5 separate regions of the Homo sapiens genome follow, and all the other regions are linked to region 2. Evidence: fine-mapped expression QTL. A gene starts in region 2. Each other region holds a variant in brackets. All regions are shown on one strand. Distances are between the middles of the regions.

The links. PIP is the estimated chance that this variant, and not a neighbour inherited with it, causes the effect. A credible set is the group of variants that fine-mapping cannot tell apart.
Region 1: its variant is the best candidate, but not a certain one, in a credible set for the expression of PITRM1 in tibial nerve (GTEx, PIP 0.54).
Region 3: its variant is the best candidate, but not a certain one, in a credible set for the expression of PITRM1 in prefrontal cortex (ROSMAP, PIP 0.51).
Region 4: its variant is the best candidate, but not a certain one, in a credible set for the expression of PITRM1 in unexposed skin (GTEx, PIP 0.87).
Region 5: its variant is the best candidate, but not a certain one, in a credible set for the expression of PITRM1 in B cells (Schmiedel 2018, PIP 0.87).

Annotation. Positions count from the first base shown.
Region 1 is chr10:3,125,824-3,130,054 of GRCh38, reverse strand. PFKP (phosphofructokinase, platelet) reads right to left here. Exons shown (of 22, transcript NM_002627.5): 17 at 72-236. Among named protein-coding and RNA genes, the nearest start is that of SNORD142, 6.2 kb to the left of the region's middle. RefSeq lists an enhancer at 327-840. The variant C/G (reference allele first, on the strand shown) is at 2,497.
Region 2 is chr10:3,170,724-3,174,954 of GRCh38, reverse strand. PITRM1 (pitrilysin metallopeptidase 1) reads left to right here and starts at 2,173. Exons shown (of 27, transcript NM_014889.4): 1 at 2,173-2,238. The coding sequence starts at 2,183. RefSeq lists an enhancer at 623-1,160 and silencers at 1,359-1,518, 1,809-2,648.
Region 3 is chr10:3,114,687-3,118,835 of GRCh38, reverse strand. PFKP (phosphofructokinase, platelet) reads right to left here. Exons shown (of 22, transcript NM_002627.5): 14 at 1,990-2,060; 15 at 1-54. Among named protein-coding and RNA genes, the nearest start is that of SNORD142, 17 kb to the left of the region's middle. The variant C/T (reference allele first, on the strand shown) is at 2,295.
Region 4 is chr10:3,120,157-3,124,387 of GRCh38, reverse strand. The region is part of intron 16 of PFKP (phosphofructokinase, platelet); the gene reads right to left. Among named protein-coding and RNA genes, the nearest start is that of SNORD142, 12 kb to the left of the region's middle. The variant CAT/T (reference allele first, on the strand shown) is at 2,171.
Region 5 is chr10:3,150,663-3,154,893 of GRCh38, reverse strand. It overlaps PITRM1 (pitrilysin metallopeptidase 1), which reads left to right. Exons shown (of 27, transcript NM_014889.4): 15 at 3,531-3,647. Among named protein-coding and RNA genes, the nearest start is that of PITRM1-AS1, 11 kb to the right of the region's middle. The variant C/T (reference allele first, on the strand shown) is at 2,263.

The DNA of each region.
Region 1 (4,231 bases), 45 kb after region 2:
CACGATGATTCACTCCGCAGCACCCAGTGGATCCCAAGGGGACGGGCCCTGAGGCCAGCCCCGTCACATACCTGCAGATCCCTGATGTCGAAGGGCTCTTCGAAAATGTATGCGGCATCAGCTCCGGCCGCGAGCCCCCCCATGTTGGCCAGGTAGCCACAGTAGCCGCCCATGGTCTCGATGATGAACACGCGCCGCTTGGTTCCGCTGGCGGACTGCTTGATGCGGTCGCAGGTCTGGTCACAGAGAAGCGATCAGTCACTCCAGCCCAGGCCCGGGGCGCGCCCACCATCCCAGAGCTCCCCCAAGAGTGAGTGCAGCAAGGCCCCCCCACCGCGCCCAAACATGCGGTCCCAGCATCCCGCAGAGGTGAAGGGTGTGCAGCAGCCAGGATGTGCCCTCGGAGTGGGTGTGAACGTGGTCCCCCGCAACCCCACCATGGCAGCCACCTGGAGGTGACCTCGATGTCCCGTTTTGGGGGCCTGGCCATCTGCCGCTCCCTTCTCCCAGGCCCCATAGAAGGGGACGGAAAAGACGACCCCACAAGCCAGCTCACTCCACGCTGCTCTGTGACTGTCCCTGCTGAAGCCGCTTTCACCGGACACAGACACCGTTAGGTGTTAGCTGAGATGTTAGGGGACTGTCCCCTGCCAGCTTAGTCCGTGAGAACCGCTGTGCTATTCTATTTTCTTCTGAAAAGCTCCCTGTGATTTTAGAGGTGCGGCCATCTTCCATCCATTGGCGAATGTTACATTTATGGAAACTCTACTCAAAGGCAGATGGTGGTTCTTAGACCCAGGCACCTGGGGAAGTCTTCCAGATGCACAGGCATCGGATCCCAGAGTGAAATGTCTGCCATCCGCCCTCCATGAGGACCCAAGCTCGGCGGGGAGAAAAATGGCAAAGAAATGCATCGGCCGCCTTCCCACCCATACATCAGTCCGGCTGCAACGCCCTCTTCCTGGGCCTCAGCTCCCACCCCGGGACCCTCCAATCCGTTCACACAGAAAGGACCCCATCTATAAAAAACATAAATCTGATCCAGTTCTTGGTTTATTCAAAACCCTTTGCTCACTTCAAGTACACATCAAGCCTTTGTCGGGAATCCCCGGCCCCGCCTGCTCCCGGCACCAGGTCCTGTTCCAGCCACCCCAGGTCCTCCTGGGGCCTTTGGATATGCTGGCCGCTGTGTGCATCACATTCCGGCACAGTGGTGGGCGGGAGAGCAGCCCCCAAAGGAATCCCAGTCCTATCCCTAATCCCTGGAACCTGGGAATGCTCCCTCATGCGGTGATAAAGGTGAATCCTAGGAGTACCCAGGTGGGCCTTAAATGCCATCACCTGCATCAGCAGATGAGGGGCGCAGAGGCTGAAGGCCCTGGAGCGGGATGCTGCACACCCACATGGAAGGAGGAGGCGCCAGGGAACAAGGCGTACAAGGCGTGCAAGGCCCGCAACTCTGGGCACCTGAACGGGCCACGAGGGACGCTCCTGGAGCAAACATTCTGGCCTCAGCCCATGGCTCCTGCGCTCCAGAGCTGTGGGAGAGAGTATTATTTTCCAGCCCCAGGTGTGTGGTCAGTGTCACAGCGGCCACGGGACACACAGAGGCACCTTCCTCAGCTCTGATCCAGAGGAAAATGTCATTTCCTCAGGAAAACACCACCTGGTTTCTAGGACCACAAAGTTCCCTCTGTCAGGGGCTCTCGGAGCCACCCCATGTCCTCTCTTCACAGAAATTATCCCGGTGTCTCTCCCTGCAGTTACCTTGTGGTTATTTGACTTGGGAGGATCTTCCTCACTAGGCTGCAAATTCCATGAGGACAGGAACTGTGGGCTGGGCTTACACCAGTGCACCATCAGCAGCACCCGGCCGAGCCCCCACAGCAGGCGCTCAAGAAATGCTTGTCTCTGAATGACATAAGCATGGTATTCCCCAGCCAGCCGTCCGTCCGTCCTGGTCAACGGCTGATCCTGCAGGATTCCCTAATGGGCCTCCATGGGACTCAGCCAAGAGTAAGAGCATGAAGTGGGGGTGTGGACTTGAGACTAGGAGCCACGTGAGAGTCTGTGCACCCAAGTTTAACACCCATTGGGAAATGTTCACTTGAGCACTTCGGATGAAATCTAAAAGTGCACTTTGATTAATAAATGCAGGCTTGATTAAATGATTCCAAACTGTATTTCCAGTTTCTTTGGCAGATTCTTTTCTTCCCAAAATAATTGGTTGATGTATTCAAAACTGAACACGGACTCTAGTTAGCGGGCCACTTTGCATTGTGTAGAAGCCGAGATGGGGAGAGAAACAGGCAATGGGAAGAATTCCCATCTTTGTGCTTAGGAGGACAGAGGACAGATCCCCGTCAAGGGTCCAAAGAGCCCACAACTGCCTTCTTGAAGGGCCAGTGCAGAATTCTGAGGGTTGCACTGTTCCACCTGTACCGGGTCTCTCTAAATGTGATCTAAGACTTAAGACGCTGTAAGGCTTTAAGACTT[C/G]TCCTTTGTCTTAGAGAATCCCAGGCACGGGTGGGGCCTCAGGACCCCCAGAGGCACAAAACCTCATGGGTTACTTTTCCAACTGAATCTCCCCCGCAGCCCACCCTGAGGTGGGGAATTACTGTCACTCATTCAAAGAATGACATCAACCGCTTAATGGCAAAAGAATTCTGCGGGCAAAGCAGCTCTCCCAAGAGGCTGATTTGTGCCCAGGCGTGTCTGAGTTCTGGTCCCGCCAGGCTGCCCCAGGGGGCTGTGGAACAGCGCAGCCCTGACACCTGAGCCACGCCCCCGACTGTGTGCTCGTCTCAGTGTAAACGCAGCGACAGCTGGTACGGAAGAGGCCGCCTTTGCTGGAGCTTAGATACAGCTTTCCTGAACTCTCTCCTCATTACCTAGATGGCATCTGAAGCCTGAATTAGCTTCTAAAAATAGCAAGTCACTCCGGCCGTGCCTCAGGCAATTAGTCAAAGCAGCACTGACAAGAAGGCGGCAGATCCCAAGCGCGGCCCTGCCTGCCTGCAGTGTGGCACGGAGGTGCCTCCCTGGCCTCCGAGTGGGTGGAAGGATGGCAGAGGGCTGTGTCCCAGGGCTGGCACGTGGACAGCAGCTGTGAGTGGCACTTGTCAGGCAAAGCCTGTGACCTCAGCCGTTCCCCCTGCACGATGGGATGTGCCCCCAGCAGACGCCACCCCCTGCAAGGACGCAGAGGCGATCCTGCTGCTGAGAAATTCCCCGAGGAGTCCCATGGGAGCGAGAGCCCCAGGCTACAGTTCAAACATCACCACACTTTGCTCCATGGGTGTTAAGAAATATAAATTGGTGGTGAAAGAAAAGGTGGCGTTTGCTACAGCATTAACGTAGAAAAAAGCCACTGACTTCTCTGTGAGAACCACCTTGCTCTGTGAATCTGCAGGGAGGCCAGTTTTCCCATGACTGGTATCCCTCACGGCAGCCGAGCCTCTGCTGAAGTCGGTGGCCAGACGGGACAGGGGGTGGGGGTCCTGTCCCTGCTACAGCATGGAACCCGCAGCAAAGCACAGCTGCTGGCCAGGGTAGGGCTGCGTCGCGTGTGGGGCGCGAGGGTGGAAGTGTGCATGGACATCTACAAGGTGCTAAAGGAGAGTGAAGCCAGCGATGGCCGGACCCTAATGGCATTCACCCAACAGGGGTCAAGTGCGGGGCCCAAGGAAGTCCTGGGAATGAGCCAGGGCCAGCCTCTGCAAGACCACCACAGCACTGGGGAACACAGGGAGAAGCCTAGGAGAGAGATGGCCAGGACACGCCCCTCAGCTCGAGTGGGAGGCTGAGGCTCGGACTCACAGGAAGCTGCAGCCGACCTCATGGCTCCTCTGCTCCCTTCCCTGCACTGTAACTCAGCTCTGAAGGAAGTACCCGGAATAGAACTGCTGTCTTCCGAGGTTCTGTGCTAAGCTGAACTAAGGAGTCTCCAGCAGGACTGGGAGTTTTCACTGCAAACTCCGGAGCTGGCTTGGACGTCAAGATGTAAGGTAAAGGCCAGTGGCTGCTGTCCCCGCACGCGATGCAGGCCTACCCCGGCCAGCAGTTCTGCTTTGCTGTGGGTCCCTCGCACCAGGTGGCCAAGTCACGGACGTGACCCCACATGTCACGGTGGCCACCGTCCTGTCTGCAGCTGAGTGAGGACCGTCTCTGCAGCAAAGGCCTGTGGAACTACCATAGGTCTTCATGTCCAGCTTATGACCATAGAGGTAGG
Region 2 (4,231 bases):
CTACATTTTACATATATTGGTGGATGTCTCATATCTCCCTAAAATGTATAAAAGCAAGTTGTGGCCAGGCGCGGTGGCTCACGCCTGTAATCCCAATACTTTGGGAGGCGGAGGCGGGCAAATCACGAGGTCAGGAGTTCGAGACCAGCCTGACCAATATGGTGAAACCCCGTCTCTACTAAAAATACAAAAAAAAAAAAAATTAGCTGGGCATAGTGGTGGGTGCCTGTAATCCCAGCTACTCGGGAAGCTGAAGCAGGAGACTCGCTTGAGCCCGGGAGGCTGAGGTTGCACTGAGCCAAGATTGCGCCACTGCAATCCAGCCAGGGCGACAGAGTGAGACACGGTATTAAAAAAAAAAAAAAAAAAAAGTTGTGCCACGACCATGTTGGCCACATGTCATCTGGACCTCCTGGGGCTGTGTCATGGGCATGCCCTTAACCTTGGCAAAATTAACTTTCTAAATTGATTGAGACCTAGATCGGATATTTTGTGTGCACACACCCAAATTCTCCCTAGAAGACGGGTGATGCGCAGAGCGTGTTTGTGTCTGTCGCTCCTATTATTGCCTGTGTTCTGGTTCCTTTGGGCTCTTCAATAAGGAGGTACGTGTTTACCTGCAGCCCAGAACTGGCTGCCCTATGGAGAGTTTAGGGTAGACACGTTGGGACTTTTTCCCACAGTATTACCTTCCACATTGCTTCCAAAGTTTTAGCTTGTTCAAGCCGACTGCAGCCATCTACTTACCATTTAATTTTTAATTTTTTTTTTCAGAGCCCATTAGGAGACAGAGGGAGATTTGAGCCTGTTTGTATTCGTGATACAAGGGGAAAAAAAGAGGGAGAAGGTGAAGGGAGGAAGGAAGAGAGGCTCTGAGAAACCCGGAAGGTCAGACTTGGTGCGGACTTCCTCCAAGGGCTACCCCACCCTCTCCAAGCGTGGCTAATCCCAGGGCCCCTTCTGGCCCACAGTGCAGAACCACCCACTCCTACGGGGGCCTCCTTCAGCCTCTCTGGGGGTTCCCAGAAGGGCCCTTGGGCACTTGGGCAATGTCAGGGGGCTCAGGTGCATCTTCCTAGACACGAAACGAAGAGGAAAGCGGAGGCAGCAGCGGGGGCCACAGGCTCCCATGCAGCAGCTCGGAGCTGTGCTGTGCTTCGCTGGCGGCCATCCGTGATACGTGTGACACCGTGGGGCCCTGGCCCTGGGACCTGCCATGCAGCCTTGAGATCTCATCCAAGAAGCCCCCAGACCCCAAGGTTCAGGCCTGGCGGGGCAGCAGAACGCCTTTGGAGCTCAGCTCAGCCCTACAAACAGGACCAACGCCCACACCAAGGCCAGAGAGGGCTACCAAGTTTCACCTGGCCCAGCTTCCGGCAGCCCCCAACCAGGCCACTACCCTCACCTGAACACCGCGGTCCATCACCAAGCCCCACCCACTTCTGCCAGCCCTGCCCCCACAAGGACCCACCTCTCGCATGCAAGCCCCGCCCCCAAGGCCCAGCTCACCTGCAGCCCCGCCCCACCAGGCTCCACCCCATCGCCTGCAAGCCCCATCCCCAAGGCCCAGCTCACTTGCATCCCCGCCCACTAGGCTCCACCCTGTCACCTGCAAGCCCCGCCCCCAAGGCTCAGCTCACTTGCAATCCCCTCTCCCACTGGTCTCCACTCCTCACCTGCAAAGAGCCACCCCTCGCTAAGCCCCTCCCATCACTTGCACAGCCCCACCCAACACAGCACGCCATTCCAGGAGCCCCTCTTTTCACCAGCGCAGCCCCGCCCTTCACCAGGCCCCACTTCATCTGCATACACACGCCTCTCGCCACGCCCCACTTCTCGCCTGCCCACTTCCCCCTCCTATCATCTGTCCACATCCTGCTGCTGGCCGAACCCCGCCCCTTTCGGCAAGACGGCCCCGCCCCTTTCTACCCGTACCACGCCCCTCGCCTTGCCCGCCTCCTTCGGCACGTCGGCCCCGCCCCTCCCGCCCATCTCCGTCCGCACCGCCCTCCCGCCCGTCCCAGAGCAGTGGAGGCCTACCCTTTTCACCTACAGCCTATCGCAGAGGACGTCGCTGTTCGCGTTGACCAATAGGAGTGGTAGCTGTCACGGCAAGCCCCGCCCCGCGCCCTGCGTCGGGTTAAGAGGGGGTTCCTCGCCAGCCAGGTGCTCGTCATGCGCAATGTGGCGCTGCGGCGGGCGGCAGGGCCTGTGTGTGCTGAGGCGGCTGAGCGGCGGGTGAGACGCTGCGACGGGAGGCGCTCGGCGCGCTGGTACCCGGGAGGGGAGGGTCCAGGGCAGGCCGGAGGCGTAGGGGTCCTCGTCCCTGCGCCCGGGGCTGGCAGCTCCCCAAGCTGTGGGCGTCCCGCACCCCGAGCCCTTCCTGGAGCTCCCGCATCCGAGGCTCCGAGGCCGGAGGACCTCGGAGCTCCTTCCTACTCCCAGGGGCGATGCCCCGGGCTGGGGGCCGGGCCTGCCCGCGGCGCTCCCGGCGGGGCCCTCCATTAGCGTGGGCTTTAACGGGGGTAGTAAATGGGGTCGGCATTTGCGGTTCTCGCTGACAGCTTTGCTCCTAGTTCATTTTTGTTGGGAGGCCGAGTCCTTAAGAGACCCGAGGCGCCCACAGCCCATACTTAAAGTCTCGCTGTGTTCAGAGAACTGACGCCTCCCGGAATTGAACTGTTTTGTTTTTTTAATGACTCAATTTATGGGGAAAAAAATGACGAAGCAGTTTAGTGTTCATGGTAATCCACGAGCCCGTGTTTAATATAAGGTAATAGTTCAGCGCTGCCGGCCCAGGCCGGGAGGCACGGGGCGTCCGTGGCATGAGTTCGGCCTGGCCTTACCGCTCAGGAGTTTCCTATCATGTCCTTGATAAGTAACTTCTTAAAACGCTTCTGTCCCATAATTCTGAAATTTGCTAAATCAGTAAGCAAATGTTGGTTATAGCATATCTTCATAATATTGCCAGTGACTGAATAGGTTTTTTCTTCCTGTACATATTATCTTTAAAATAAATATTTCGGTGGGATACATTAATGTAGAAAATCCCATACGACATATAATACAATTGGAGAGAATAATAATTACGTGTTTTTTAAGAGCAGGGATCTTGCTCTGTTTCCCAGGCTGGTTTGATCCCCCTCCTCAGCCTCTCGCATTGCGGGGTTACAGGTGTGAGCCATCTCATTCAGGTGAGAATAATTATTAGAAATAGGTTGGGCGCGGTGGCTCACACCTGTAATCCCAGCATGTTGGGAGGCCAAGGCGGGCAGACCACTTGAGGTCAGGAGTTCAAGACCAGCCTGGCCGACATGGTGAAACTGTCTCTACTAAAAATACAAAAATTAGCTGGGCGTAGTAGTGAGCACTTGTAGTCCCAGCCACTCAGGAGGCTGAGACAGAATTGCTTGAACCCGGGAGGTGGAGGTTGCAGTGAGTCGAGATTGCACCGCTGCACTCCAGCCTGGGCAACAGAGTGAGATCTGTCTCAAAAAAGAAAATTAGTGTCCCTGTGACCAAGTTGAAGATTCCCCTAACTGCTCGTAACTCTCTCCCTCCCTCTTAGATTATCACGGTCATAACATACAGAAATGTCCTTGCTTTTTTTTTTTTTAATATTTTACCATTTTTATGCGTTCTGACAATGTCTTGTTACCTATTTGAATAATACCTGTTTAGGATAATACTGTATCATGTGTATCTTTTGTTTCACGTTATGTGACCCATATCTTTGTTACATGCCACTGTAGGCCCTTATATTGGTAAGGTTTTTTTTTTTTTTTTTTTTTTTTTTTTTTTTTTTTTAATTGAACGATTAGTCCGCACTTTATCCATTCTCTGTCGATACACCTCCGGGTGAGTTGAGTTTGGGACTGTCAGGGTTCGTGCTGACATTTTTGTCTGTGAGTGCTGGGGCCGCAGTGTAAGGTGTGGACGATAGAGACCAAGAGGTGAATGGATTTCCAATCTTCAGCATTTTTTTCTTTTTTTTCCGACAGTCTTGCTCTGTCACCCAGGCTGGAGTGCAGTGGCGTGATCTCGGCCCACTGCAGCCTCCACTTCCCGGGTTCAAGCGATTCTCCTGCCTCAGCCTCCCAAGTATCTGGGACTACAGGCACCTGCCACCACATCAGGCTAATTTTTGGCCAGGCTGGTCTCGAACTCCTGACCTCAGGTGATCCGCCCACCCAGGCCTCCCAAAGTGCTGGGATTACAGACGTAAGCCACC
Region 3 (4,149 bases), 56 kb after region 2:
CTGTGCGTGCGCATCTGTGTGGCGATCTCTTCCAAGTACTTCCCCGGGAGAACGCTGAAAATAGCCACGTGGAGAACGATGTCAGACACCCCAAACTCCACGCGGTCCGCAGGACGCCACGCCGGTCCCCACCCGGCCGCCTTCCCCAGTCTGTGGTTTTAATTAAGGAGCGGTAAACGTCTGCCTTTTCACTCATGCCGTTGTGGCTGGCAGATGGCAGAATGACCAGGAATCTCATCTCAAAACAGTGTTTTCATGAGAAAATGGAATAAAGCATTTCAGCTCATACCTTGACCTAAAAAGAACTCTACTGCCCCATTAGAAAAAATAAAATTAAGAAGTTATAATTAATAACAATTTTTTTTTTCCAAGATGGAGTCTCACTTTGTTACCAGGCTGGAGTGTAGTGGCGTAATCTCAGCTCACTGCAAGCTCCGCCTCCCGGGTTCAAGTGATTCTCGTGCCTCAGCCTCCCGAGTAGCTGGGACTACAGGCGCCCGCCACCACGCCCGGCTAATTTTTTGCATTTTTAGTAGAGACAGGGTTTCACCATGTTGGCCAGGATGGTCTCCATCTCTTGACCTCCTGATCCACCTGCCTCAGCCTCCCAGAGTGCTGGGGTTACAGGTGTGAGCCGCCGTGCCCAATAATTGTTTAAATGGAAATTTCCAGTTTCCAAATAACTTACATATGCATTATCCACTATTGATCTCATTTAAAATCCCATCTGCTCATACCTGCTCTCCCTCCCCCATGCTCTCACCAATGTCACATGACAGGGCTAACAAGTGCAACACCAGACTGTGCCCCTCCCTGGATCCCATCCCAAGCCCATCCAAAGGTTTCATGTTGATTGGAAGAAGTGAAGTACTTGTACTCTTGGTAGATTTATAAGACACCGTAGGGCAAAAACGTTCAGGCCAGGCAATCAGAGCAGACAAGTGAATGCAGCTAAGTGCAAACCTGTGCTGGCCCCTAAGGTGAGGTTTCTTAAGCCTCTTCAGGACGAGCCCACAACAGCCAGCGAGTCCTCTCTACGTTCGAGAGCAACGCCCTGGCCCTATCAAGCACCTGTGCCCGGGGTGTCAGCAGCCAGTCCTCAGCCCCAGAACGCACACCGAGGGATGCATCTGCCTCTACCTAGAGCTTTACCGTCCAGGGCACCCACACACAGAGCTCATGAGAACAGCCGGGAGGCAGCTGTAGAGCTAACCCAGCTCCGAGGCTCCCACCATCCCACCAGTGGCTGGGAGTACCAGGGTCCTGGCTGTAAAGCAAAGCAAAGGGTGCAGCTAACTCCCTTGGAACAATAAGCCGGAATTACATGGAATCCATCATTTATTATATTTGCCAAAAACTACCTTCCTTCCATGTGAAATTGTAATGTGTAGTGATGACAGAGATTAATATTCGCACCTCTGACATGATCAAAGGTGAGAATTACTCAGGCTTCATCTACATTAGGAAATCCCATTGTCCCCAGGGATGCAGGGACGCCAGGCTTACTGTAGGTCTGAAAAAGAGATTTTTAGACTAGAATTCCTTGGGTCCTTTCCTCGGCTGTGGAAATCTGAGCCTCGAGTCACAGCTGCTCAGGGCTATGCTTCCCACCAATGCTACCTGCTATCCAGGCTGCTTTAGGGTTTGCTTAGAGTGCCATCTCCACGGCTCCGTGACACCACTCATCTTTATGACCTCCAAGTGGAGGCTTTAGGCTCGCCAGCTGGCTTTTCAAATGAATGGAAATATGAATTAGAGGAAGGCATTCACAAGTTACCTCCTCTTCTCTCTTACGCCCTGGGACACATCCCCAGCTCCCTGGAACACGGGCAGTTCCACTGGAGGGAGGACCGGTAACTGCCTGCACCCCTCCCTTAGGGACGCCTTTCCAGGAATCCAACTGGCGTCGGCACCCAGCGATTCTCTCCCAGAACACGGCTCTTCCTTCTTCCTTAAAAGCAGGTCATAGAGTTGAGATTTGGAAGTTACCGTTTTGTCCCAAGAATGGAGCCTCCTTGGCCGGTCCAGCCCCCGACATCTGTCCAGCCGATTTCTTTGATCTAATGTGCAAACACAGAACGAAACAGCTAAAGTGAACAATGAAAGGCAAGTTGCAAAGTGCTAAAAATAGCTTTCTGTACTTTTCAACAAGCTGCATTCCGGTAAAGATTTGAGAGGCGTATGAGACAGCATTTATCACGATGCCCGGATGAATCAAGGTGAGAAGCAGAAGTCCAAGGTTAACAACTCATGAAGAGCAGCAGAGGGGCTGCGTTCTCCCTGCCTGTCGGGGC[C/T]TCTGTGTCTCATCCTGAGCCACGTGTGAGATACATCAGCTCACCGTATCCCGCCACCGGCAACTAAAAGAAAAGTAACATGATGGTTTCTAAGTTGGTAAAAGATTAAGGGAAAATTTCTTTTCTTACAAACTAGGGAGAAAAAAGGAAAACAGATTACTAAGCAAACTAAGGTAATCGCAGAAAGAGGATGCCACTGCGAGGACGGCAGGACTGCAGGAGGAGAACCCGTGGGGCTCGAACCCCAGCTCCGCAGCTTCCGGTCACGAGATTCTGGGTAAGTTCACGGATGTGGTGGACACACTGCCATGCTGCAGGGGGATCTCCAGGTAAATTACATTAGAAAAAAGATCATTCTACATCAAAAGGTAAATACTGTACAAGGTGTGTATGTATATATATATATATTTGACAGAACCATATAAATCAGGCTTTTTTTTCCCACATAAATCAGTTTTGAAGGCAATATTTTTTAAATAAAGCAAATACCAGTTTTAAGCCAATTAATCTTCACAAGTCTGAACAAGAAAGACGGGGAAAGCAAGATCCACCCAGGACAGAACGGTTCCTCATCCGGTTCCTGCTGCTGAGATGCGGGTGGATGGGCCAACACAGAAGGGCGGGCAGTGGTGGTGGAAGGTGGATCATCTGTGTTCCCAGGGATGCCACAGGGCATCTCCACCCCACCTCTCTGCCACTCCTCAGTCTCCTGGGCTGGGGTTTCCTCTTCCCACCCTACTCTTAACAATGGCGCCCTGAGGAATCAGTCCTGGACCTTCTCTCTCTCCTGCCTGCACTCAGGCCCTCAGGGAAGCTCTGTGAGTTCTGCATCTTTAACTACGTGGAGACGCTGAAGATTCCTAAACCCATGAGCTCAGCCAAACCCTCCTGAAGATGCTGGGACACAGCGGCTTACTGCACATTCTTGGCCACGGGACACACACCTTCACCCTGGCATCCCCAGTCCTGTCCTCAGCTGAGGGACACACACCTTCACCCTGGCATCCCCAATCCTATCCTCAGCTGTGGGACACACACCTTCACCCCAGCATCCCCAGTCCTGTCCTCCATGGCGGGACACACACCTTCACCCCGGCATCCCCAGTCCTGTCCTCCATGGCGGGACACACACCTTCACCCCGGCATCCCCAGTCCTGTTCTCAGCTGCGGGACACACACCTTCACTCCAGCATCCCCAGTCCTGTCCTCCGCCGTGGGACACACACTTTCACCCCAGCATCCCCAGTCCTGTCCTCCGCCGTGGGACACACACTTTCACCCCAGCATCCCCAGTCCTGTCCTCGGCCGTGGGACACACACTTTCACCCTGGCCTCATGAGTCTCCGCTCCTCATCCTACCTGCAAGAAGTGTGTCTCAGGGCTTCCTAGTCCTCATAAATTGCAACTCTACCCTTTCCATGTGCTCAGGCCAGGAATGGAGTGATCCTTGCCTCCTCTGTTTATGCCTGCGTGTACTTAGCAAGCAAACCCCATCTGCCCTCCGTGCCCTCCATACCTCCAGACCCTTGAAGGTTTCTCGCCATCTGCACAGTAGCCAGTCTGGACCCACCATCTCTTGCTAGGTGACTGCAAAGCCCCGGCTGGGAGCCCTGCCTCCTGCCTCAGTGAACAGCAGCGGGTCCCTTTAGAAAGCTCTTGGTGTGGGCCAGTCCCTGCTCAGGACCTTCGAATCTCACATAACATAAAAGCCAACCTCCTCAGGCTGCCCACAAAGAAGCCGGCCCTGCCCCTGCAGTTCCCATCCTCACTGCCCTGTGCGGGCTTGGAGCCCCCGCCCCTGTGAGCATCAGCTCCAGAGCATCCTTTCCCTCCACCTGGGATGAGTGTCCCCTGA
Region 4 (4,231 bases), 51 kb after region 2:
TTTTCAGACTCCACCTCAGGGTGTTAACCAAAGTCACAGCAGGACAGGTCCACACGCCCACTGTTCCCACCTCCAAGTGGCCCCACACAGCAAGGTGTTTTTGACATCCACGTGGTGGCAAAACCAACTATTTATGGTCTTGGACGTGTCCGTCTTACTGTGAATATCCCCACATCTGCTGCAGAAATGCTACTGGTGGGACACAGGGCGGCGCCCACACCTCCCTGGGAGAGTCGGACAGTGAGCGATCTGGGCTCTGCAGCCCTGGTGCAACGCAAAGCATCCCAAGGCCTGGAGCCCGTGTGGGCCGAGGGCTTCGGACAGTGGGTGTAGACCCGTGGCAGGTGAGTTCACAGCACGGTGGATAGGAGGGTGGGGCGGGTGGGTCAGTGCTGGGTGACCACAAGGCGAGCTGTGAACGGGGTCAGTGCTGGGTGACCACAAGGTGAGCTGTGAGCAGGGTCCCCCGCACCCCATGGCACAGCCTCCACCTCCACCCAGGCCCAGCACGTGCCCAGCTCTTGGGCCGCTCTGTGCAGGCTCTGCCTGGCAGGCTCTGGCCATGGCAGTTTTTGCAGGACTTCAATCCAAATGCCAGCTGCTTCCCAGCCAGCAACACTCATGTCGGGGCACTGGCTGGCCTGGTGCCCAGGATGTGGCCCCTCAGCACCGCCACGTGGGAGTCTCCTTATGCTTTTCAGACAGGTGATGTCGCTCACTTTACTGTGGAATACCCGAGCTCAGGACTGACCAAGACTGGCTGTGGGGAGCCGGCTGTTTCTCCGAGAAGCGCTCGCTGGAAGCCAGACGGTGTGGGTGACCTGGGACCAGGAGGGGCCTGAGGCACACAGGAGGGCAGGTGGGGGTCTCGGCAGCTTAACTCCACATTGAAATCTGTGGGGACAGCCACAATGCTGCAAATCCTCTCTCCCCTCTTCCCTATCACTCCTCTTTTCCTTCCTTCAGTCTCCAAAAAAGGGAAGGGAAGCTTCAATACGGGGGAGACCCTGCCCAGCAAAACATAAAATTCTCAAGACCAAGCGCAGCCAGGCTGTGAATCAGTCACGAGGCTGTGGTCACTGCCACCTTCGCGGCAGCTGACGGCAGCGTGGCAGCAGCTTACTGTGCTTCTGATGTGACCTTATCGAGCTTACAGGACGGAGTAATGGGCCAGTGCTAAGGAATGAAAGGGTCGGACTGAAACTCCCTGCAGCCGTATCCTGAGAACGTGTCACACCGGCTCTGAGGTATCTCATTCCTTCTGCTCTGCCCGGAGGACCACTCACCAGCACCGCATAGATTCTGAGGGGCTAAGCATCAATGCTGGCAAGAAGGAAATCATGAGAGAGGACGAGGACGCACGTGTCCAGAGAAGATGAGGCTTCACCACATCAGCCCCGCCCAGGGCTTCCGAAGCACAACACGGCGACATCCTGAGCCAGACTCCTATTATGGAGCCCACCCTGTGCTCTGAGGGACGTTCCGCAGCGTCCCTTGTCTCCAGCCCCAGATGCTGGGAGCATCCCTTTTCCCACTTCTAACCAGAAACCTCCCTGGACGTTGCAAACATCCCCTGGGGCAAAATCACCACCCCTGCCCCCATGAGAATCACCAAATTTTCTGAACAATAGAAGCCAGTATACTGGAGCCATCTACAGACCTCAAACCTAAATGCTGCCCAGGGCCATGCCATGAGTCACCAGTCACAGAGGGTGTGGCCGGACAGGGAAGAGACGCTCACTCCCATGCGTCCTCAGCCTCCGGCGGCTTCAGGACAGTGGCCGGGGGGACCCGGAGCCATCCACGTCCAGTTGCCTCACACCCTGATTTCCTGAGGACGCCACCAGCTCATGTTCTTCTATGGCCAGACGAGCCCAGTTCAGACCCAAATCCAAACCTTCTCAGGATTCACACTGTTCGGCCGTCAGTAAACAGGGCTCTGGAGAAAACAGCTGCCATGTTCACATATCGGTCCCTCTCCCTTCAGGGTCCACAGAGGGACCCTCAGCGGCTTTCTCTTCTCTGTCCCAGCTCCCCAGCAGCCACAGCATTCGCCAGGGTGACCTCGGTCAGACGGCGCCACTCACCCATCACGAGACTAGAACCACCGCACTCCCAAGACAGCCTTGTTCCTTGGAGCTCAGGATCAGAAGGGCAACAAGGACACACA[CAT/T]GCACTTACCAAGGTGGCTGTGCCTGGCCAACGGGAGGCTCAACTAACTACACGCTCCAGTTCTTTCTCAGACATTGTAATCAGTTAACTTCAGGCCCGGCGCGGTGGCTCATCCCTGTAACCCCTGTGCTTTGAGAGCCCAAGACAGGGGGATTGCTTGAGCCCAGACGTTTTGAGACCAGCCTGGGCAACACAGGGAGACCCCGTCTCTATGGAAATACAAAAAATTAGCTGGGCACGGTGGCACCCACCTGTAGTCCCAGCTACTCAGGAGGCTGAGGTGGGAGGATCACCTAAGCCTGGGAGGTCGAGGCTGCAGTGAATAGCGATTGCAGCACTGCATTCCAGCCTGGGAAACAGAGTGAGGCCCTGTCTCCAAAAAAAGAAAAAAAAAAAAAAAAAAAAAAAAAAAGAAAAAAAAAGAAATTGTTTAACCTAGCTTCGAGAAACTCGAATGAATGAAAAACTGCATTTAAAACAATCGCATAATAAATCACACAATCCCTCCAAGGGAAGTAAAAGCAGGTGGAAATGATCATTTGTGGGGTGTTTTTGCCCCACGTATTTTGGTTTTCATAAATTTGACCCTATGCATTTGTTACATATTTACAATCTGAAAAAAAAAAAAAAAAAACAGTTATTTATAGCAGAGGACCCTGGAATTAAAAAGAAACTCAGCTAACTGCAGCGACCGCTCTCAAATTCTCCACCCGTTCCCTCTGGGCGAGTTCCAATTAGGTAACAATTAGGGAAAAAAGAAGCTTCAGTCCCTCCCATTGCACACCCAACTTTCACAGACCCAAAAATCTAGCTAAAGCAGGCGAAAGAGCAGTGAAAGCAATGACGGAATCCAGTCTGTGAAAGAGGCTCATCTTCACATTCACAGTGCGAAGGTAGGTCCAGAGCCGGGCCAGCCCCGCAGCAGCAAAGCCGTGACACCCACCACCAGGAGAACAGAAGCAACGTCTAGGTCAGAGATTAGCAACTGCCAAAAATAAGGTGAAAGTTGCCCCCAAAGCCAGTGAACACAGGAAAACCTGGGCAGGTTTCCTTCGCAAAGAAAGTGAAGAAAGTTTAAAACGCTCAGAAAAGCAAGAAACGAGTGCTAAGCATTACTTACCATATGAGCTGTATGTTAAAAGCTTGTTTTTTTATTTACCAGTGCTAGAAATAAGTTTCATGCCAAGGTTTTACAAGAAAAAATATCTTTGAAAAATATTCATGAGAACCAAGTCTCACAAGAAAAATTAAAACTTGAGAATTACTACAAACTTTTAGACATCAAATTTTAAAAAAATGAAATGCTTTCTGTGTTAGGTACGGATCTTCAAACTCCCACATCAATTACCAAGCGTGACACACAAACATGGGAATAGGTGTATATTTCTTTTAGCCGGGAATGGTGGCACATGCCTGTGGTCCCAGGTACTCGGGAGGCTGAGGTGAGAGGATCACCTGAGCCCGGGAGGTCGAGGCTGCAGTGAGCTGAGATCACACCACCGCACTCAAGCCTGGGTGACAGAGTAAGACCCCGTCCCACAAAGAAAAAAAGAAGAATATATTTCTATGTTTTATTATTGTCTCTTGGCAAAAAAACTAAAGTAGCACCAATTATTGCCTTAGAGGTAATTTAACATCCCCAGTTTACAAAGGGGAAAATGAGGTCAACAGCCAAGACCAGAGAGATAACAAATGCAATGGTGCATTCAGGGCAATGAATAAAATTATAAAATATTCAGTTCAATTTCTACCCTCAGCATCAAGGCAGGGGTTCATCATAATGGGTATTGGAGGCTCAAAGAAAATTTAGGCTCAGCACACACACACACACACACACACACACACAGCGATTTTTAATGCTGGTACAATCACAGGAGACTGCGACCCAGCCCTCCTCAGCGCCTCGGGTGCTCACGGGCACCCCTGGAGTCTCGGCCACACTACGTCCCCCTGGTGGCCACACAGAAGAAGAGGTGGTAAAACTCTCTGGGAGTGAGATCAAAAATTTTCAGAGTCTTAAAACATACTTTTCTGGGGGAAAAAAAGAACGAGAAGCTCT
Region 5 (4,231 bases), 20 kb after region 2:
TGGTGGGAGTGAAAAGAAAAGTGAGACGGGGATTGGCAGCCGCTGGGGGAGCAGCCGGGTGGAACGAAGGAAGGGAGGAGGCCACGGGAGAGAAGGGGACCCAAATGGATTCTCAAAGGTAGTTTGGCCTCTGGGAAAAAACATTTGCAAAAATGGTGTCTGATAAAGGCCTGTATTCAGAATATACGAAAAACGAACAATTCAGTAATGAGAACACACAACCCAATTAACACATGGGTAAAAGATTTTGACAGATATCATCTAAGAGTTCCTAATGGCAAATAGGCACATAAATCATTACATGGGAAATAATCTCATTACTTTCTTAGGGAAATGTATCATAATTATTAGAAAAATGCAGATTAAAACTACAGTGATATACAATTATACACCTACTAGAATGACTAACATTTTAAAAATTACTGCCAGCACCAAATGCCATCAATCCTGAGAGGCAGGGGGAATGCTCACATGCTGCCAAAGGAGCCAAAATGGTGTGGCCACCTAGGAAACGGGGTCACAGTTCTCACAGTGCCAGCCAACATGCACGGACCAGGAAAGCCCCGCTCCTAACGTTCCTTCAAGAGAAATGAAAACAGGCGTCCGCACAAAGCTTGAAACAACCCAGATTTCCATCAACATATACATCCTTACAAAGAAATGCCACTAGCTGTGAAGGAGCGCAACAATGATGCACGCTTGGTATTGGTGCATCTCGAAGCTTCCCACAAAGGGAAAGAAGCCGGGTGCCAGATGACATCCTGAGGCCATTCATGGGAAGCCTAGATGTGGCAAAGCTGCAGGGACAGAGAGCAGATGAGAAGCTGCTGGAGGCCCAGTCGGGGTGTGGTTGACTGCAGTGGGGATGGGAGAGTTTTGGGGTGCTAGAAAGGCCCAGTACTATGATGTGGTGGCTTCATAGCTTGCCACAGTTGTCAGAACTCAGTTGAGTCTTTAAAATTGTGAATATTATTGCTTGTAAGTTATGTATTAAGTCTTTTAAAAATAGATGCAACACATACACACATGCACTTACTTTTCCTATTAAAAAAGCTAATTGGGCTGGGATTCTGTGAGAAATTGTCAGGCTTGTCAGGAGGTAAGAGTGGACGTTAGGTGGAAAGTAAGTGACTCCATTTTGATCATGCTAAGTTTGAAGTTACATCATGTAAAAGAAAAATTAATGTCAGTTTGTAACCTGCTCTTACTCTTGCTATCTGAATTCTTGTTTAGAGACAACTGGTTTTTTTTTGTTGTTTTTTTGGTTTTTTTTTTGAGACGGAGTCTCGCCTTGTCACCCAGGCTGGAGTGCAGTGGCACGATCTCGGCTCACTGCAAGCTCCCCCTCCCGGATTCACGTCATTTTCTCGCCTCAGCCTCCCAAGTAGCTGAGACTACAGATGCCCACCACCACGCCCAGCTGATTTTTTGTATTTTTAGTGGAGACTAGAGACAACTGTTTTAAGCTCTATTTTTTAACCTTACTCTTTTTCCCCCCTTATTAAGCTCTGTTTTGTGACAAGCTCCAATCTTCCCGCTTTTAATTGAAATTATTCATGACTACACAAGATAATTCCATGAGTAGGCAACAGGTTGTACGTTTCCTAAATTACTTCATATTCGTGGCCTGGCCTCAGAGCTGTGCTTTAAGAAAACCCCGTATACTGTAGTCCAAACCAGTAGGTTAATGAGCAGTGCTCACACTACAGATTTCTCCTTTACACACTCGCTGTGTAGCTCTTTGAAAGGAGGGCACAGTGCTAGTGCATTGAATGGTTATTTCAGGTCAGTAAGTCTTCAAGTGTGCATGGCAGTGTTAGGGTTCTGTGAATTAAAAGCCAATCTGTAGAGAACAACAATGCAGAAAAGGGGAATGGGAAACTATGTAGTAAAAGCTTGAATCTTCCGATTTCTGGTCTTGTGTGTGTCTTAAGCACTGTGAAGGGGTAAAGCCTCCACCATCAGGGAGTGTGTGATGTGCTGAAAGAAAACAGAGAAGAGAAAGTGCCAGAGGCTTTTTCTACCAACTGTGAGTGAGTGCATTCAGAGAAGGAGCCCTGGATGTCAGGGTAGCTGTGGCGTGCTCTAGCGCAGGTGGGCCCAGGGACCACGGGGGAAACCGGGTCAGGGAAGAGGCAGGAGGGAGCTTTGTGGCAAAGCCACAGATTAGAAAATCTCCGAGTGGCGTGAGGTCGGGAAAGTCAGGATGTTAGGTAGGTGGCAAGCAGGCAGGGGAAGCCTGCAGAGCCCAGGTCTGAGCTC[C/T]GTGCCATTGGGAGCCTGGGCTCCACATGCTGCTGGGAGCAGGGGTGGTTATTGATGGCAGTTGCGGCTCCAGAGGTGGACAGAAGGGCTGGAGCCCACAGTGGGGCACCTGTGGAGGGATGACACTGCCTGAGATGCTCACTGCGCCCCAAGGTCCCGTGTCTAAGTGCGTGGCACGCTCTCGGGGAACTTCAGAAGGTGGAAATGGAACATGGGGGAGGTCAGCCCAGCAGACACCAGGAGTGCTGTCTGCGGGGACTGAGTTAAAGTGGGAACTGGGCACAGCCCTCCCCGGGAGTCGTGGAATCATGCATTTGTATACTTGCTTGGCTCGGTGTAGCACTGTGAAGCCGCTTCACTGATGGCCATCAGGGCGGGGAGCACGCCTGGGTCTTCTGGATTCTCCACATGGGCTGTGGCTCAGTGGAGGAGTCTGCTGTGAAGGTGCTGCCTCCCTCATTGATGCATGCACTGTCAGGCCCAGGAAGTGTCTTTCTAAGCACCACTGTAATTTGTGTGATTTATGTGCTTGTGTAAGTCTTTTGCTGAAATTAGTGAAAATGAAACAATAGAAAACAAGTATAGGGCCAGGTGCAGTGACTCATGCCTGGAATCCCAGCACTTTGGGAGGCCAAGGTGGGAGGATCACTTGAGGTCAAGAGTTTGAGACAGCCTGGGCAACATGGCAAAACCTCGTCTCTACAAAAAAAAAATAAAAATAAACAGAAATCAGCCAGGTATGGTGGTCTGCACCCCTAGTCCCAGCCACGTAGGAGGCTAAGGCAGAAGGATCACTTGAGCCCAGGAGGCAGAGGCTGCAGTGAGCTGAGATGGTGCCACTGTACTCCAGCCTGGGTGACAGAGCCAGACCCTGTCTCAAAACAAAAAGAAGATAAGTATAAAGATCACTAAATTTCAGTCCATCAAGAAATGGTTTGAAAACTCTAAAAACAAGTTGAATCTATTTAATGTAAACTTTGGAGGGGTGCAGGAGAAGCTGCTTGAGCAAACCACCACTTCCTAGCAGAATTCCTTAATAATTGAAAATGAGAATTAGGAAAAGGGCTACCCACTAAGCAGGTTATTAGTGCGTCTAAATATGGTCAGCCTGGAAATAGGAGATACTTTGCAAACCACAGTGCTCCTGTACTCCCCACACTTGGCGTGGACGGCTAATTCTGGATGTTAAGATAATAACATAGGAGACAAGTTGCATCAAACCTTTTAATTATGGCCCTGAATATTCCTTTTTCTTGTTTCTTTTTTAGGTCTAGAATTACGGAGTCAACAAAGCAAACCTCAAGATGCCTCTTGTCTGCCAGCGTTGAAAGTTTCCGATATTGAACCCACCATACCTGTCACAGAGTTGGACGTGGTCCTGACAGGTCACTGTGAACGCTACGCTTTTCCCGGGTCTCGGGTTCCTTGGGGGAATTAAATGTCACTCCTCACAGAAGCAGTAGAGTCATGTCTTGGAGGTTTTCCCTGAAACACTTGAGCAGCCCTGTGCGTTCATAGTCTCGCTCTACACGATTCTTCTGCCTTGTTCTTAACTCTCGGTGGTGATAGACTCCTTCACTCAGTAAGAGCCCGTGTGTGTGTGTGTTCCTGAGAGGGGTTTGATAGGGCGCTCTGATTTCCTGCTTCTAGAATCAAATGAGGATTTGGGTTACGCTGTGACTGTGTGAAGCGCAGTTTTAAAAATCGAGGCGTCCTCAGAGCCCTTTTTCCTAATGTTTACCCTGCCATCAGCATAGAGGAAGCAGAGGGACGAGAGCCCCCAGAAAGCTGAGTGCTGAGTTGAAAGGAAGTTGGAGACCAGGTTTATCCCCCTGCCGTGTCCTGGCATTTCGTTCCTTGGCACGTTTTGTTCCGTGACACGTTTCATTCCATGGCACCTTTTGTTCCGTGGTACTTTTTGTCACGTGGTCTGTCACTGCTTTTGAGTTCTCAGGGTGCCCCCTTTCTC